Linked DNA regions of Homo sapiens: all the other regions are linked to region 2. Evidence: fine-mapped expression QTL. A gene starts in region 2. Each other region holds a variant in brackets. All regions are shown on one strand. Distances are from middle to middle. Region 1 overlaps ITGA1 (integrin subunit alpha 1). Region 2 holds the start of PELO (pelota mRNA surveillance and ribosome rescue factor). Region 3 overlaps ITGA1 (integrin subunit alpha 1).

Region 1 (2,765 bases), 45 kb before region 2:
TAATAAAATTTGTTGAATGAATGAATATATCATATGAATATTCTTTTTCCATTAGGTGTCTTATTGATTCTAATTATTATCTCATGTAAGTTTGCAATTCTATACTACTTCATCCAGCCAACTGCTTTTCTTTTTTCTTTTTCTTTGTCTTTAATGGCACAATTCCACAAAGTTAATATACCTCCCCTTTAAATGGCCACATCATAGTTTATGGAGTTATATTTTAATTTAGATAAACATTTATCAGAACAACTTCAATTTGCTTAAAAAATATTACACCTAAATAGACTCTTGCAACAAAATAACCTTGTTCTAAACTATAACTTTATGATCACATAAAGAAAAAACTCAATACCAACAAAAATGGCCCAGGAAAAGTAACATTAGTTAACACTGAATAAGCTTTCAGAAAACTCTTAACTCTAGCAAGAGCAAGGTAGTAAAATCAGATGGAATAATTTAAGAGAAAGGTAAAATGTCTGGGGTATGCATGTTCACTAGGAAACATTTTTCCAGAAAATACATTGTCATAATGTTTTATGGAACCCATAATACAATCATATAGTATTATGAGTTCTTTTAAGTCCTGTAGAGTTATAGAAGAAGTACATCTTACATAACTGTGTGAACAATTAAGTTGCATTAGGCTTGGTTGTACTCTTTATGAGACAACAGTCAGTTTACTAAGGGTTCCAGATGGTAGCTTTTCATAGTAAAAGTCTGTTTTACTGTCTTTTCAAAGATGGCCTTTTAAATTGTAGTACACACAGGTAAAGGCTAATTTCAAAGCATTTTTTTTTTTTTGAGACAGAGTCTCGGTCCGTCACTCAGGTTGGAGTGCAGTGGCACTATCTTGGCTCACTGCAGCCTCCACATCCTGGGTTCAAGTGATCCTCCCACATCAGCCTCCCAAGTAGCTGGGATTAAAAGTGTGTACCACCATGCCCAGCTAATTTTTGTATTTTTAGTAGAGATGGGTTTTCACCATGTTGGCCAGGCTGGTCTCGAGCTCTTGAACTCAAATGATCTACACACCTTGGCTTCCCAAAGTGCTGGGATTACAGGTATGAGCCATCATGCCCAGCCCAATCTCAAAGCTTTTGATGGCTTAACAAAATGAAATAAAAAAGTAACCAAAAAAAATCTACCAAAAAAAAACTCTTTTGAGAAATAGCACCAGAAGACACACACACACACACACACACACACACACACACACACACACACACAGATTTATATATTTCTGCCAGAATAAAAAGGGTCTTTTCGATACCTATAATATTTTTCAGTATTTAAATCTGCTTCCAAGTTCTAGTGATAGTGTTCATTCTTTATTCTAACATAGTGTATGTAATATTTGGTTATATAATTCTTGCAAGAGAGATGTATTTGACCATAGGTGTAAGAAAATATGGAGATTAGAAGAACTTGTGTAGAATTATTTATGACCTCCTAATATGTGATTGTTTTAGTGATAAATCATAG[A/G]ATCTTATGGGTAGAAGGGATGAGACCTCAGCTATTATTTAATTTGACCCTTCCATTTCATCAGAAGCCAACAACTACCTTTTTTGGCATCTATTCTACTCCAACCAAAGATTTCTGAAGATGCTGCAATGTTTTTAAGTGACTCTGCCACCCAGGCCACAGCTGACAAGTCCAGGAATGAGTATCAGATCTGAATGAGCCATCTAGTTACCTACACTCTTGGCCACCGTTGATTAATTCTATGGGGACCAATCAGAGTATGAACTCTCTAATCTCAGGTTGGCAGCCTGGAGTAGGCTCTTGTCTTGGTGGAGAGATCCATGGAACAGGAGGCTCAAGAGCTTACATGGGTCTGATTCTCTCCAGGAAGCAGGGTTATAGTGTGGCCTAGTGAAATCAAGATGAGGGAAGGAGAGAGTTCTAAAGTACAGAAGGGAACTGAGATTGGGTAGTCCAGTAATGAGCCCCCAGACAACTTTATTTCTCCACCGTGGCTGGGGGAAGAATGAGGAGGAAGAATGAGGCAACAGAGCTAAGAAATCTAGATGGCTACAAAGACATGACTCATTGTTTTCTTCTTACTTTATTTTCCCCAAAAAGCTCTTAAAATTCTTAAAAGGACAGAGAGTAAAAGAGAAAGACTGGGCCTACTCTGCAGTTGATAACAAATATGTTAATCAATGTATAGACATGACTATATTATGAATATGTTATATTCATTCAGCGGACATTAATAAAAGTCCCATGTGAAAGGAAAGGTAGAAGGTCTTTAAGGGATTAAAAGGTAAAAAAAATATATTGTCTCTGCCCTCAAAGAATTTGTAGTCACTTGCGAGATGTATTTAAGATGTAATTAAATTAACTAATCTTTAAGGTTAAAAAAAAAAAAGAAAAAATTCTTAGGAGCCATAAGTGATTACTGTTATTGTGATGCCAATTTTATGAATCCTAAAAATTCTAGAGTTTTTTTTTCTTTTCTCTTTCCTATTTAATCAATAAAGAGGTCTATGCTATCTAAAAGTCATTAGAAACAGGTATCTTGAGACTTAGTTTGGGTAACCCTCTGTGTGACTTTCTGGCTGGGTGCAGTGGCTCACTCCTGTAATCCCAGCACTTTGGGAGGCTGAGGTGGGCAGATCACTTGAGGTCAGGAGTTCGAGACCAGCCTGGCCAACATGGTGAAACCCCATCTCTACTAAAAATACAAAAATTAGCCGAGGTGTGGTGGTGCACGTCTGTAATCCCAGCTACTCGGGAGACTGAGGCATGAGAATCGCTTG
Region 2 (2,765 bases):
TAGCTGGCTCTACCCTGTTTTTAGTGGTAAAAATGCTAAATTAACTAGTACTAATAACCATGCCAGCAGTAAAAACACTGAACAATTGAATATCAATGATATGTTAAAGCCAGCTGTTAATTAACCCATTAATAAGGTGATTTTCTTTCACACAGAGATTCTATCGATACACTTTCCCCCCACCTTCTTCCATTTTTCACCATTTCAACTTTCCCCCACCCCAATCAGTAACTGGTAAAAAAGATCTGACCATGAGTTCATTATTGGGAAAATCTTACAAAATGCTATATTTCAAGCTTTTTCTAAATTGGATACAACTTTGCATTTCCACTATGTTTTTAAGTCCCCTCCTTAAAAATACACATTTATGTACAAATAACAATACTATATTTTGCATCTTAAAAGTAGACTGCCCTGTGATATTTACAGAGAAAATGTTCACCATTCCTTTCTACGTTTCAAAATATCCCTCCTCTTGGGTGCTGACATAGAAACATCATTTTGGAACAAGTGGCAGTTTCGTCTTGCATCCCTGCCTTTTCTTGTTCTGCATGGGAAAAAAGCCTAAATAGTAGACAGCAAGAAAATTCAATAATGTCCACTCTGGAACAACCCGAGGGTAGGAATTTTGCATATGTATCAGGCGCCCTATAAGCATCACCCTCCCATCCCATGCCATAAAAAAGGGTGGAGGGGAGGAAATATTCAGCAAAGTCCTAATATACAATGTGTATTGTAAAAACAACTTTAATTTTAAAAGTGAATTCTACCTTCTAAGGTTTTCAGTGCTGCCTCACTCCTACTCCTAGGGTGAAGGACTTTGGAGAGACACGAAAACTAATTCATATCAAAACCAGAACGCGAAACTCCTGCCTGCCCCGTAGCCTGGCCTGAGTACCTGGAATGCCCGAAAGTGGATGGGCGCTCTCTCTTCCTATCTGGCCCATGGCTCTGAGGACCTCCCTCCCCGCTCCAAGCCCCAAGCCCGCGAGCAGGAGATGCTCAGAGAAAAGCGAGTCGCTCACCAGTGAGGAGCCAGCAGCAGGCGACAGCGACCCCTGGGCGGGCGCGGGGCCGAGGGGCCATGGCCGGAGCAGCCTCAGCGCCAGGGGGCCGCGCTGGTTCGCAGGGCAGGACCGGGCGCGGGAGCTGCGCTCTCTGGCTGGGCCACTTATCCCGCTGCCGCGGTTCCCAGTCCTCTGCCCCAGTGGCAGCGGCGCCCAGGAGCGGGAGAGGAGTGATTTCCTGTGTTTTCGTCGAATTCCTCTAAATGCGCTCCACGCTTTTCACATCCCAGACGGATTGCCACATCGCCCGCCCCTTCGCGCTCTTGGTCTCTGAAATCTCACTGGCAGCTTCCCAGGCTCTGTCCGAGACATGGACAAATAAAGCCAGCTTCGCGGGTCCGTGTTTAGGCTAAAGTCCACGGGCTGTAGAAGCAAACCTTAAAGGGACATCTGCCTTTCATTGAGAGGGTGATCTCGTTCTCCGGGCCAAATCCCCTAAGGTGGTAGGAAGGCGGGTAAGGGCTGGACCTTCGGGAGGGTGTTGCCAGCCCAGTGGCTCCGCCTTCACACCCCTTACTTCTCCCGGCCCGGGCAGGGAGGGCGCTTTGACAGTGCCTGGGCGCCCTTAACGGGAGGCAGCTTTCCCGGGTCCATTGCGCAGAGGGATTAGGCCGTCTGTGAAAATGCGAGGATCTGGAATCCCCCCTTCCATCCCCTGCGGACACTTGAAATTCACCGTGAAGTCGTTTTGCACGAAAGGGGGCGTCCCCACCACCCCGACAGGCTCCACTGAGGGCTTTGCTTTCGCTTATGGGGGGGTGGGGGGGTTGCTTCGTTTATGGTAATTCGTGGTTAAAGGGTGGTTGCAGATAAGCTTTTCTTTGAGATAACTAGGATAAGGGGAGAAAAGGAGAAGCAAGACGGAGGAAAAACAGTAAGAGGGAGAGCGAGAAGGGAAGAGAGGAAGAAAAGCAGCCTCCTTGGAAATGGAATGTGTGTGGGCTATTTTGTTTAAGTGAATTAGGATGTTTGTACGCTGGTAATTGAATCTAATAAAGAACTCGGGGCACTACTTTATTTTTTTCTTGCTTGAAACTTTCACGAGTGAAAATGCATTAAGAGTCCAGAAGTGCTTAGGAACTTGCAATGCTTCCCTTTCCTGGTGAGTTGAACAACCTCTCTGAGTCAAAAGCCATATTCACCCTAGCTTCAACCAATGCTGGCTATTTTCAAAATAGCTGTGTCTTAGCGGTTTTGAGAATTTCAAAGACAGAAAGAATAAGTGGATTTGTGTTTAGAGGAATCTGAGGGAAACAGTTCAATTCAATTCTTCAACTCAACAACTAATTGAGCATCTCTAGCAGAACTAGGGCTAGGCAGGACAAGAGTGCCACCCAAAGGAGGGTTCGTTGAGCAGAACGCAACACAGGTAGCACAGAACAGGTAACACGAGGGACAGGAAGGAAGAAGCCCACAGGGTTCACTGGATACATTGCCAGATAGAGGATCACAGCAACTAAAAGCTGGAGAAGACAAAAGTTGAAGAAGTTTAAGGAGCGTCAAAAATGGGGTGGGCAGACCCAAGGAGGTTGAAGGCCATCAGATCTCAGTATGTTGACCCATTAATCAAGAAATTCCTTTTCTATTATGTATCTGAACTGATTCACTATTTAGTAAATACATTAAAAATCTCGTTCTCCCGTTTTTAGTTTTTATAATGTCATTTCTCAGTTCTGTCTTCAAATTTACACAAATGAG
Region 3 (2,765 bases), 35 kb before region 2:
ATGTGGATGAATCATGTACATATTCAAATGCATTTTCCATATTTAATTCCTTTGGTAAGTGACTTATAATTATTTGATTTAATGATTACTATATATATATATTAAAGGTCATGAAACAAAGCATAATCAGGGCTGAAGAAAATTAGGTCCCAGATCATTAAGTATGAGAACATAAAACAAATATAGCACTCTTAAAGTAAGGCCCATTTTCTTCAAGCTAGAGCTCTTTAAATATCTGACATACTATCACCAGAATGTGCTAATGATATTCCGTATACTTGTAAAATAAATTGGCAAACGTTGATAATATGTTTAATTTATTTGTAAAGCTACCACAGACATACAAAAGTCAATTCTGTTTTCTAAGCATGTAGAGGAAGTTGAAAAGAAATGCTGAAAGCACTTTCCCCTTCTTTTTTCCTTGTTTTCTCCTAGTTTCCAATTCTTTCTTTTCCTTTGTCTGTATTTTAGCACTCTCTGCACTGCTTTCTCAGTCTCCGTTGGGATATTTAAAAGCCAACCACAGGCTAAACATTGATCAAGTAAATAAACATTTAACTGGTGTGGGTTCTGCCTACAGCAGGATCATGTGACAAGATCTTAGGAGTTAGAGGACCTCCATTTTCCTAAGGCAGGAAAAGGTTGAGATGCCCAAGAGAATAAGATGGACTTATTGGACATAATCATCACCATTTAAAATGATTTGGATAGGTGCCATGGCTCACACCTGCAATCCCAGCACTTTGGGAGACTGAGGTGGGTGGATCACTTAAGGCCAGGAGTTTGAGACCAGCCTGGTCAACAGAGCAAAACCCCATCTCTACTAAAAAATACAAAAATTAGCTGGGCATGGTGGCGCAAGCCTATAATCCCAGCTACTCGGGAGGCTGAGGCAGGAGAATTGCTTGAACCCGGGAGGCGGAGGTTGCAGTGAGCCAATATCGTACCACTGCACTCCAGCCTGGGCAACAGAGCAAAACTCTGTCTAAAAATTAAAATAAAATAAAATGATTAAATACCTCATACAGATCTGGTGCTACCATTTTGGTCATTCCATGAGTATCTCTCTCCGAGGCTTGTCTAAGATTCAGAAGGATGTCAGGAAAGTCGGGGCACCATTGAGAGAACTCACTCACCTTAAAGCTTGTTAGACCTGGTTCCTTGGAGCCCTCTTTTGACCATGCAATACAAACTCGATGTGTCCTTGAGGAATCTCAGAAGGCTATAGCTGGAAAAGTCCCTATTCGACCATCTAATGAGACAGTGTCCTCAAATGATGAGAACACTGATGCCCAAGCAGTTGAAATATTTTGCCTAATATACTGTGGCTAGTTTAAGTGACCAAACCTAGAGCAGAAAACAATTTTCTTGCTCTGATTCAAGTTCCCAGTCCACTATCTCACACTATGAAGCACATAAAAAGCAGTGATGAACCATCTTCATTATGTGTCCCTGGGGTGTAATTACCGATCATACGAAGCAGAAAGATTAGAAGTAATAGGCCTTCTGCAGCTCTTGCAGCTGTGTTTCCACTGGGTGAGACAGTGTCAAGGGTA[G/A]AGGCTACAATACGAACTGGCGAGGGAGGAGAGCCAAGTGACAGACTTCCAGTCAGCAACAGGCTTGGGCCACTTGGCCAGGAGCCACCTAAGTGTCCCATATCCCCTATGCAGAGCAGTCCGGATACTCAGCCTCCAGCTCTTCTAGGAAACTAGCAATGCAGATGCCTCTATGAGTTTGAGATTGTCTAGCTCTGCCCAGTCCAAACGGAAGTGTCCCTGAATCAGTGGGAGGAAGAAGAGAGGCAACTGGTTGGATGAGGACTGAGTTTCATTTTAATTATCTTTGTATCCCCAGTGCCCTAAGTAAAATCGAAGCTCAAATATGTTTATTTGAATAGAGTAACTAATTATAGCCAGAATGTTGTCACCAATCTACTGTAGGCAAAACATTTGTCTCCTCTGAGCCTTGATTTCCAAGTCTATCAAGTAGAAATGTTAATAATGATCCTTGTAGTATTGTTCAAGGATTGACATAAAATTCCACATATGAACACCATTTGGAAACTCTAAAGCACTCTAGCATATAAAGGATAAAAGGTCAGGAAACGGCCTCCACATGGCAAATTCTCAAATAGTCCCATTGCCAATTTTGTTGTTGACATTCTTCCATTCATAAAATATATGCAATTTAAGTTGCAAGAAAACAGATATTTCTATTATAATGTGATATATTCATTCCTAAAAGCAATCTTGTGTTTTCTACAAAATCACACATAAAAATCATACAGCTTATGATAAAAACAGAGTTGGGGCAGTCAACTCAAAGTCCATACACCTTTTTAGCTAAAACATAAAGTCGAAACAACTCAAATAAAAATACTAGCATAATTTTAAAGGCATTTAGATTCCTAATAAATTCTATACTAAATAAATGATTACAGTGGAATGAAGTAAGAAAATGTTAAGGCTGAATAGTTGTGGGGACAAGGGCAAAATGAACTAAGTTTGGGGCCAATTATATAAGCCCTTCCAAGAAATCACACACAGCAAAACTAGGCAAAGAGGAAGAATACAAGGAGAATGGGAATTCCTTACAATACTGTATGAGTATATGCTTACTGTGTCCAACTCTTAGTGTATTTGGCATTCAAGTGGTGGCATTGGTAGTATAAACATTAAGGTGCTAGGGAAAACTGAATTATAGTGACTTATGTATTATAGTGACATCATTTTTCCATTTACCAATTCTGTATGAGCAAATTTCCT

The links. PIP is the estimated chance that this variant, and not a neighbour inherited with it, causes the effect. A credible set is the group of variants that fine-mapping cannot tell apart.
Region 1: its variant is the best candidate, but not a certain one, in a credible set for the expression of PELO in whole blood (TOPMed, PIP 0.50).
Region 3: its variant is the best candidate, but not a certain one, in a credible set for the expression of PELO in platelets (CEDAR, PIP 0.87).

What each region holds. Positions count from the first base shown.
Region 1 is chr5:52,831,231-52,833,995 of GRCh38, reverse strand. All of the region lies in intron 1 of ITGA1 (integrin subunit alpha 1), which reads right to left. Among named protein-coding and RNA genes, the nearest start is that of PELO-AS1, 32 kb to the right of the region's middle. The variant A/G (reference allele first, on the strand shown) is at 1,486.
Region 2 is chr5:52,786,675-52,789,439 of GRCh38, reverse strand. It overlaps PELO (pelota mRNA surveillance and ribosome rescue factor), which reads right to left and starts at 1,524. Exons shown (of 3, transcript NM_015946.5): 1 at 1,026-1,524. It overlaps ITGA1 (integrin subunit alpha 1), which reads right to left and starts at 1,524. Exons shown (of 29, transcript NM_181501.2): 1 at 1,026-1,524. The coding sequence starts at 1,086. All of the region lies in intron 1 of PELO-AS1 (PELO antisense RNA 1), which reads left to right. RefSeq lists an enhancer at 1,557-1,836.
Region 3 is chr5:52,821,446-52,824,210 of GRCh38, reverse strand. All of the region lies in intron 1 of ITGA1 (integrin subunit alpha 1), which reads right to left. Among named protein-coding and RNA genes, the nearest start is that of PELO-AS1, 22 kb to the right of the region's middle. The variant G/A (reference allele first, on the strand shown) is at 1,557.